Linked DNA regions of Homo sapiens. Each later gene encodes a partner of the first gene's protein in a complex. Each region holds a gene or a part of one and is shown on either strand. Other genes may lie near its edges.

Region 1 (3,950 bases):
CCATATCATGGCCCCGTCCCCCTGCACTCTTCCCTTTGGAAGGCTGAGTTACAACCCTGTCCCAGAAGATTCAGAATTTTAAATACGTGGTCTGCTGATCAACATTTATTTTTCCTCAAACCTCAGTACTACAGCTATACAAACTACACTTCTAAAATATTTGAAACAGATACTGAATTTATTGGTTGGCTATGAGTAGGAAAATACATCGGTAAAGAAAAAAGACCCTGTATATAAATATAATGCTAGCTAATTACAATTTGACCAAGAAGGTTCCACTGAACAGAACAGTAAAAGCCCTTGTTACTGCCAGTCCGTATGGTTTATTCAGTTCCCATCACCCTCATCAAAGAGCTGTCTGGGCGGATGTGACATTCTTTGAGCTTATAGTGCAGATAATGTGCTGGGTTTTGTTACATGAATGGTAAACAAGAGTTAGTCCAGTGCATCACACAATATAATGTACTGTGAATAAAGACTAGATACTTTTAGACACTACTTCAACATACCAGTTATTAAAATGTATGTAACCAAAAAGAAGAGCAAAGTGAACATCTTAAAATACTGTTTACGAATGGTGAAGAACACCTGCTGAAGGAGTTCTTGGAATTATCTGCAACATCTGTACTGGACATTCTGAGAGCTTCACTGAAAAAACGGTGCTGTCATTGTTTTGCCTAGCTTGGCTTTAGTCCTTATATATGACCCCAAAACCTTACAAGTCAGTATGGAAACTAGTTCCATAAATTTAAATAGTACAAAGTGAAACTCTAAAACTTGAATATTATTATTGAGAACCTGAATCTCGAAAGAGCTTTGAAATTTTAATTTAAACATTTAGAAGTGCATTCCATCCAATTTAATAATGTCCCTAAGTTTGAAAGTGCTAATAATCCCAAGTAAGTTTTCCTGGTTGTCACTAAATCATATTAAACACACACACACACACACACACACACACACACATTTCTGGAGATGTTCTCTGCCTATCTTTGGGACTATGAAAGTTGCACTCAACAATTCATTTCTACAACTTTAGCTTAAATTATGCCATAAGTTAACTTGACGAACAATATTGAAACTCTCAAAGCATAAATAATGACCACTAATATGGTAAAGCTGTACTTCAGGAGATTGGCGACAAGGATTTGGGTGCCTTCAAACTTCTGGTCTTTAAAACAGAAAACATGCCCTAAACTTTTTGTAAGACATTTCTAAAATGGATTTATCCAGCAAAAATACTGAAATGACATTATGGCAACACATTAAATATATTTGTTACAGAATTTTTGAAAAAAAATATACACCGTGAAAACATACTAGTTTTTATTGCATTTTAGGGATTATAGATTATTGAAAATTATTTAGGACACGGAAAATATCTAAAACATGAAACCTTTCTTAACAAAAGCATCATAGTCTATTTTGGTGTGACTGTTCATTACCTACAGACCCCAAATAGTTCTTCCTCTTTTGAAGGTTACACTTGTAAATCTACACTCTTGGTTCAATTTATCACTGTCCAAATAAGGTGGAGAAGCTGTTCAAACTGATCCACAGAATGCAGTATGCCTGGAAGAGGCAAAACAAGTATTTTCAAGACATAACAGGCCATTACATCTTAATATGCTGCCCCAAATTCAAATATATTGTAGACAATAACAAATACAGATGAAGACATTTTGTGTAAAGCTCAAACCTTTAGCATCTAACAAGTGCACTCTAGTTCCAGCATCTATGAAAAGATGACATCCTCCATTAACAAATACAACATGAGTAAGTGCTCCTCCTCTCCCGCTTCCATAAAGCTCTCTGGACCTGTGATTACATAATGCAGATCGTAGGAAAAGCTGCTTCCTCAGTCTCATTAGTCCAACCAGCTCCAGCTCACCTTCACTGGAAATTGTCATGATGCACATTACCAACACAGTGTTCAGGAAAAATGAGTAAACATACCTTTTATTCACACTTTACAAAAAAAAACCAATAACAAAACCCCATAAAAAGTTATGCACTGGTTCTACATCAATACCAGCTTTCCAATGTACTGATTATAAACTGGATGTGTTTGGTGTCAGCACAACTTAAACAAAAAGCAAAAAACAAAACCAAAACATCACAATGAAATCCTAGAAAAAACAAAAAACAAAAAACCCTCAAAGGAAAAAACAGGTCCAAGACCAAGATTCAACATCAAAACCTTTTGGAGAATTTTCTAAAAGGAGAAAAAAAAAAAACATAAGAATCATTTCCAAAATGACTCATTTTCTGTATAAAAATTGTTAGTAAGAGTGAGTATTTTTTTTCCTAATGCTCACATGGCGTCCTTTTGCTCCCCTGCCTGCAGTTGAAACAAAAGCAGTTTGACCAAGCTCCCTCTGCATTCATTTGACTTTTGAGAGAAGAATGAATAAATGAGAGCAGACCATGTACATGTTCACTTTGCAAAGTTAAAGCTGGTTTTCATCTCTAAATGGCACTATGGGCAAAATAGACGGTATGATGTAATTTTTATCTTGCTTGACATACTAAAATGACTTAGTCATTTTAAAAATGATCTGAAGAATTGTCTTAGGGACCTGTTTTGAAAATACATCTAATTCATACTGCTTCATAAATGGAAAATTACTTCTTCTTAAAAAAGGAATGATTAAAACAACAACAACAACAACAACAAAAAGACTAAGGAAAAGACACTGACGACAAAAAGAATTCACATGATAGTAGTATTCTGGGTGACAAGCAGCACACTGCAATGACACCGAGAAGCAGTGCTTGGATCTGGTGAGCAAAGATCCAGGGACTCACCCTATAACATGTTCCAAAATGTGATATTCAATGCTTCACAATGGGAAAAAGCCACAGCTCATACAAAAGCATTTTCATAAAATTCTCACAAATGTTAAACAGTATTTTAAAAATATAAAAGAGGATGCACAGATTTTCTCTGCATGCACAGGCAGTGCTTGGTGAGAACAAATTTAGGCAGGCACAGTGGAGATAGGACAGGAAGTGTCTCAAAAAGAGTTAAGAAGCTGGACCTAAGCAGCTGTAGGTTTTTAACTTTAAAAAGTTAAAGATTTAAAAATATCAGAATGTACATATATCAACCATTACATTCAGTCCATAAATGTCTACAGATCATCACTGTTCAGCTTATCTGTCCTAGTAGATAGTTTTCATAAAAATTCATGAATAAGTTGCCTCTGGTCTGAAAACATCCTAAGGTTGAAGCAGATTTATATGTAAAGAACCATGTTCTCAATTTAAAAAGAAAGTAGTACAAAAGGGCTAACAAAACCCTAAGAGTGCAAATCATGAGCAGAGAAAGTCTGTTGCAGCTTCTTTTACAAGCTGGCCTTTATAACACATGAAACAGGTTTAAAAAAAAATTTAGCCTCAGTTTACAATACAATCATTTCCAAATGATTTTAGTACAAAATTTCATAAATCAGGTCTTCTGTGGATCATATACAATCATAAAGGCTAAATTCAGATTCTGTACTTTACAAACAAGTCTGAAAAAGGAGGGAGTAAAGTATGGAAGAATGATCTCTGGATGTTGCTACTGGCCTCAAAAAAGCAGTGCTACAGATTTCTGTGTGAAGAGAATACGCTGTTCACACATTTTCCTATTTCCAGGCATGAAAATATTCTATTGGGTAGAAGAAATAGGAAAATCTCTTATGACAAATGAAAGACAGGTGCAAACACACCAATCCCTGTCTAGCAGTATAAAGCATATTGGGCTCAGAATTTGTCTGTTGCTAGCACCTGGCTTTCATACTATATCCTTATCAAATAATCAGATTGAAAGTCCAAATCATTCTTAAGCAAGCAAAAATCCTCAGTGGCCATACCTCACTCCCCTATGTTCAGATTTTCACAAGTTTACAAGTGAATCAAGGCTGTCCTCTGAAGGTGCTTGACTACCTCCTGCCAGGAAGGTG
Region 2 (3,600 bases), on another chromosome or scaffold:
GAACAAACTAAAATGCAAACACATCTAAGACAGTTTATAAATATGCTAGTGATTCCTATTCCTGGGCATCAAACCAGACTCCACACTGTCTGGTCAGATAAAATACTGTCTGGTTGTAACAATGTCAAGTCCTTTGCAGGTTTTTTTTTTCTGTCATCTGTTGTAACTAAAAATAATCTTAATGACCAACTAGTTCTCCCAAGAAACAGTCCTGCCCCACCCCACCCAGGTGGAGACCAGAAATACCTGAGAAGGGGGCGGAGTGGGAAGCCGGAGCGGGAATCCGGACAGCTGACCTGCTGCGAGTCATCAGTCTGCAGAACTTTACAGTTCAAGTCACACCCACACTTTGTAATTCAAACAGGTATCCTCAAAGGACTTTTTCTATGAAGTAAGCACTTCCTCTTTAAATGTCCTATGCTTTTTTTCCCCCGTCTACTTAATATGTTCCACAGTGGACTGTGTTTTCAGGATGGTCTTGCGAGCAAAGCGAACTACAAACGTTGCTATTATTTCGTTTTGAAAATGATATTTTTGGTGGCAAACGTGATAGGAGAGGTCATCTCCTAAAAAGTTCTAACTCAAAAGTGTGCAAACTGGATAAAATTCACCAACCAATAGAAGAGTGGCCTTGCCTTTCCTGAGGAGAGTCATCCAGTCTCACACTCGGGCAGTGGGGGCTACTTTAATCTCAAATACACCACGATCCAGCTGTGTGATGGGGGCGGGTTCCCCTTCCCAGCCTTGTTTTCCTCCCTACAGCCTGTCAGTAACTCCACTTTCCATCAGAAGCGTTACCATCAGCTCAAACGTAACCATTGTGTAGTGTCCCACTGTACACAGCAGTGACACCCCCACTACCCCACCTCTCCCAGGGACAAACATCACAAAGAAAAGTTAGAACATTTTTGCCATCAGACTTCTTGCCCCACCACAGCAAAATTACCAAAGAGTAGAACAAAGCTTCAGAGACCCAAAAACCTTTGCAACTTCCTACTGCTCACTCACAGTGACAGGATTAGTTTATTGCTTACCACTTTCCAAAAAAAAAATAAACTCTTGTTGGATTAAAGATAAGAAAATGCTCACAATGGCTGGGTACAGTGGCTCACACCTGTAATCCCAGCACTTTGGAAGGCCAAGGTTGGCAGATCACTTGAAGCCACCAGACCAGCCTGGCCAACAATGGCAAAACCCCATCTCATAAAAATACAAAAATTAGCCGGGCATGGTGGTGCATGCCTGTAGTCTCAGCTGCTGGGGGCGCTGAGGCACGAGTATCACTTGAACCCGGGAGGCAGAGGCTGCAGTGAGCCGAGATCGTGCCACTGCACTCCACCCTGGGCAGCCGAGTGAGACTCTGTCTCAAAAACAAATTTTTTTAATTAAAAATAAATTTAAAAAAAAAGATAAGAAAATGCTTACAATCAATACACACCTGTGTTTGTTGGGGAGAGGATAAGGGGCTTTTGAAGGCTTTGGCCATTATTCGTTTGATCTCCACACCAGTGCTATTCTTAACACACATCGATTTATCCCACTGGATCGCGTGGTCAGGCTCCGTGGGGTTTAGCCAAGCAAGTTCATCCTCACAAATGTGGAGTGGAGGCGGTGGACGAATAAACTCTGGTCGAAAATGGCCTGTAATGAGAGCCGTGATAGTTGCTCCTATCAGGAAGCTAACATCTCTACACATCTCACACATTTCACTTAATAAAGTATGCAAAGAAATCTCTTAATAAGGATGATGTGACTAGAACTCTCATACTTCAAAATCAGAAGCAGGAATGACACAGGAAGTCAGGGTTTCAGTCAGAATGCAAACAAGACAATGAAAGAACACTATGCCAGCATGATGCCAGAGAACAATCTATTCGCTTTGCAGAAGTGAGGAAAGCCTGGCCGTGATCTGCCCATGCTGCACTTGAGCATGGCCACTCAACAGCAAAAGGGCACGACTCCTAAACGGGTGAAGTCTTTTGATGAAAAAATGAAATACTATGCCCTCACACATCCTATTCTTAGTTACCACTATTTGTTCAGCTGCCACTATGATTTGTACTAGTTTTATCTTTGCATCTTATAACTGAAGTAACAAATTACGTGGCGATGAAGCAGCAGGAGGAAAAGTATGGTTGCCTTTTGATATTTCGAAACGAATGTGGAAACCGTCACGAATCCCTAAATTCACAAATACTATATTCATTTTCAGAAAACAATAGAAGTACAAAAGGAAAATGAAGTGGTTCAACTCAACTATTTTATAAAACAAGATTCATCCCTGAGTTACAAACCCACTGAAATAAATGCTGGCTAGGACTTCTGCTGAACCAATTTCACATCTCACATAGTTTCCACATAGGGCAGGAGTGGCTTATTCCTGTCATGGATCCTAGCCCTGCCAAATTTGAGAGTCTACTGTTGAGTTTACAGAAAATATTTTTTAGTTAAAAATCATCACTTTATCTTAAACATCTCCACTGCCTCTTCACTTACCTCACCAGGACTAGCATCTGAATCTCCCTTCAACCACTTACAAAAATAAAGTTTTTAACAATTTATGAGAAATACTACTTATGTGATAGAGAGTTCTTGCGAGGTGGGGACACCTGGTGTTTGGCTAGACCCACTTATTATGAGTGATCTGCTTTTCATATATCTTCCTGGTGACCTATGCAATTTAGAGTTCTGCCCGAGCAAATATTTAAAAGAAGCCATTACATGCCATGGACATTTCAGTCACACTTGTGACCAGCAGAAACTTCAAATATTAAACCTATGTATGTCAAAGATCTACTGTAAACCAAATGGTACAAAAGTCACTGTGTGAACTTCAAACTCATGGTGATACTACACTATCATCTGGTAAACATGTTCTCATCCCAAAGCAGAAAGCTTGCCTTCATAATTCAAAGCACACAGAAGCCTATAAAACAGATGCCAGGTAGAGTGGTGCATGCCTGTAATTCCAACTATGTGGGAGTCTGAGGTAGGAGGATCCCCTGAGCCTCAAGGGATTGAGTCCAGCCTGGGCATCATAGCAAGATTCCATCTCTTAAAGAAATCCCCAAAAAATGCAGCTATATTATTTCAAATTCTACAAGTGTTTTCTTTGAATTAAAGTAAATTAGGAGTTTATAAGAAAAACTTTAAAATGGAAAAGGAAATGATAGCAATAAGAAGATTTAACAGGTATAAAACAAAAAGATAATGAGCTGCTACAAAAAGACTCATTTCAGTAAAATGAGAATCTGTATTTTTTTTTTTTCCTTTTTGAGACAGAATCTCACTCTGTCACCCAGGCTGGAGTGCAGTGGTTCGATCTCGGCTCCTGCAACTTCTGCCTCAGCAATTCTCCTGACTCAGCCTCCCAAGTAGCTGGGACTACAGATGCATGCCACTACACTCGGCTAATTTTTTATTTTTAGTAGAGATGGGGTTTCACCATGTTGGCCAGGCTGCTCTAGAACTCCTGACCTCAAGTTATCCACCTGCCTCGGCCTCCCAAAATGCTGGGATTGCAGGTGTGAGCCACTGCGCCCAGCCTGTATCTTTAGGTATGCATAGGATAGACATGCAACAAACAACTTGGCATGCATT

The links. Proteins that work in one complex are often made in the same cells at the same time.
Region 2: CNOT6 (region 1) and CNOT11 share a complex: the UniProt entries of both Homo sapiens proteins name them as parts of the CCR4-NOT complex.

What each region holds. Positions count from the first base shown.
Region 1 is NC_000005.10:180,574,180-180,578,129, reverse strand, and holds part of CNOT6 (CCR4-NOT transcription complex subunit 6), read right to left. Parts: coding exon 3,930-3,950; 3' UTR 1-3,929. UniProt on the Homo sapiens protein: Poly(A) nuclease with 3'-5' RNase activity.
Region 2 is NC_000002.12:101,262,886-101,266,485, reverse strand, and holds part of CNOT11 (CCR4-NOT transcription complex subunit 11), read right to left. Parts: intron 1,642-3,600; coding exon 1,439-1,641; intron 365-1,438; exon of another isoform or gene 1-364. UniProt on the Homo sapiens protein: Component of the CCR4-NOT complex which is one of the major cellular mRNA deadenylases and is linked to various cellular processes including bulk mRNA degradation, miRNA-mediated repression, translational repression during translational initiation and general transcription regulation.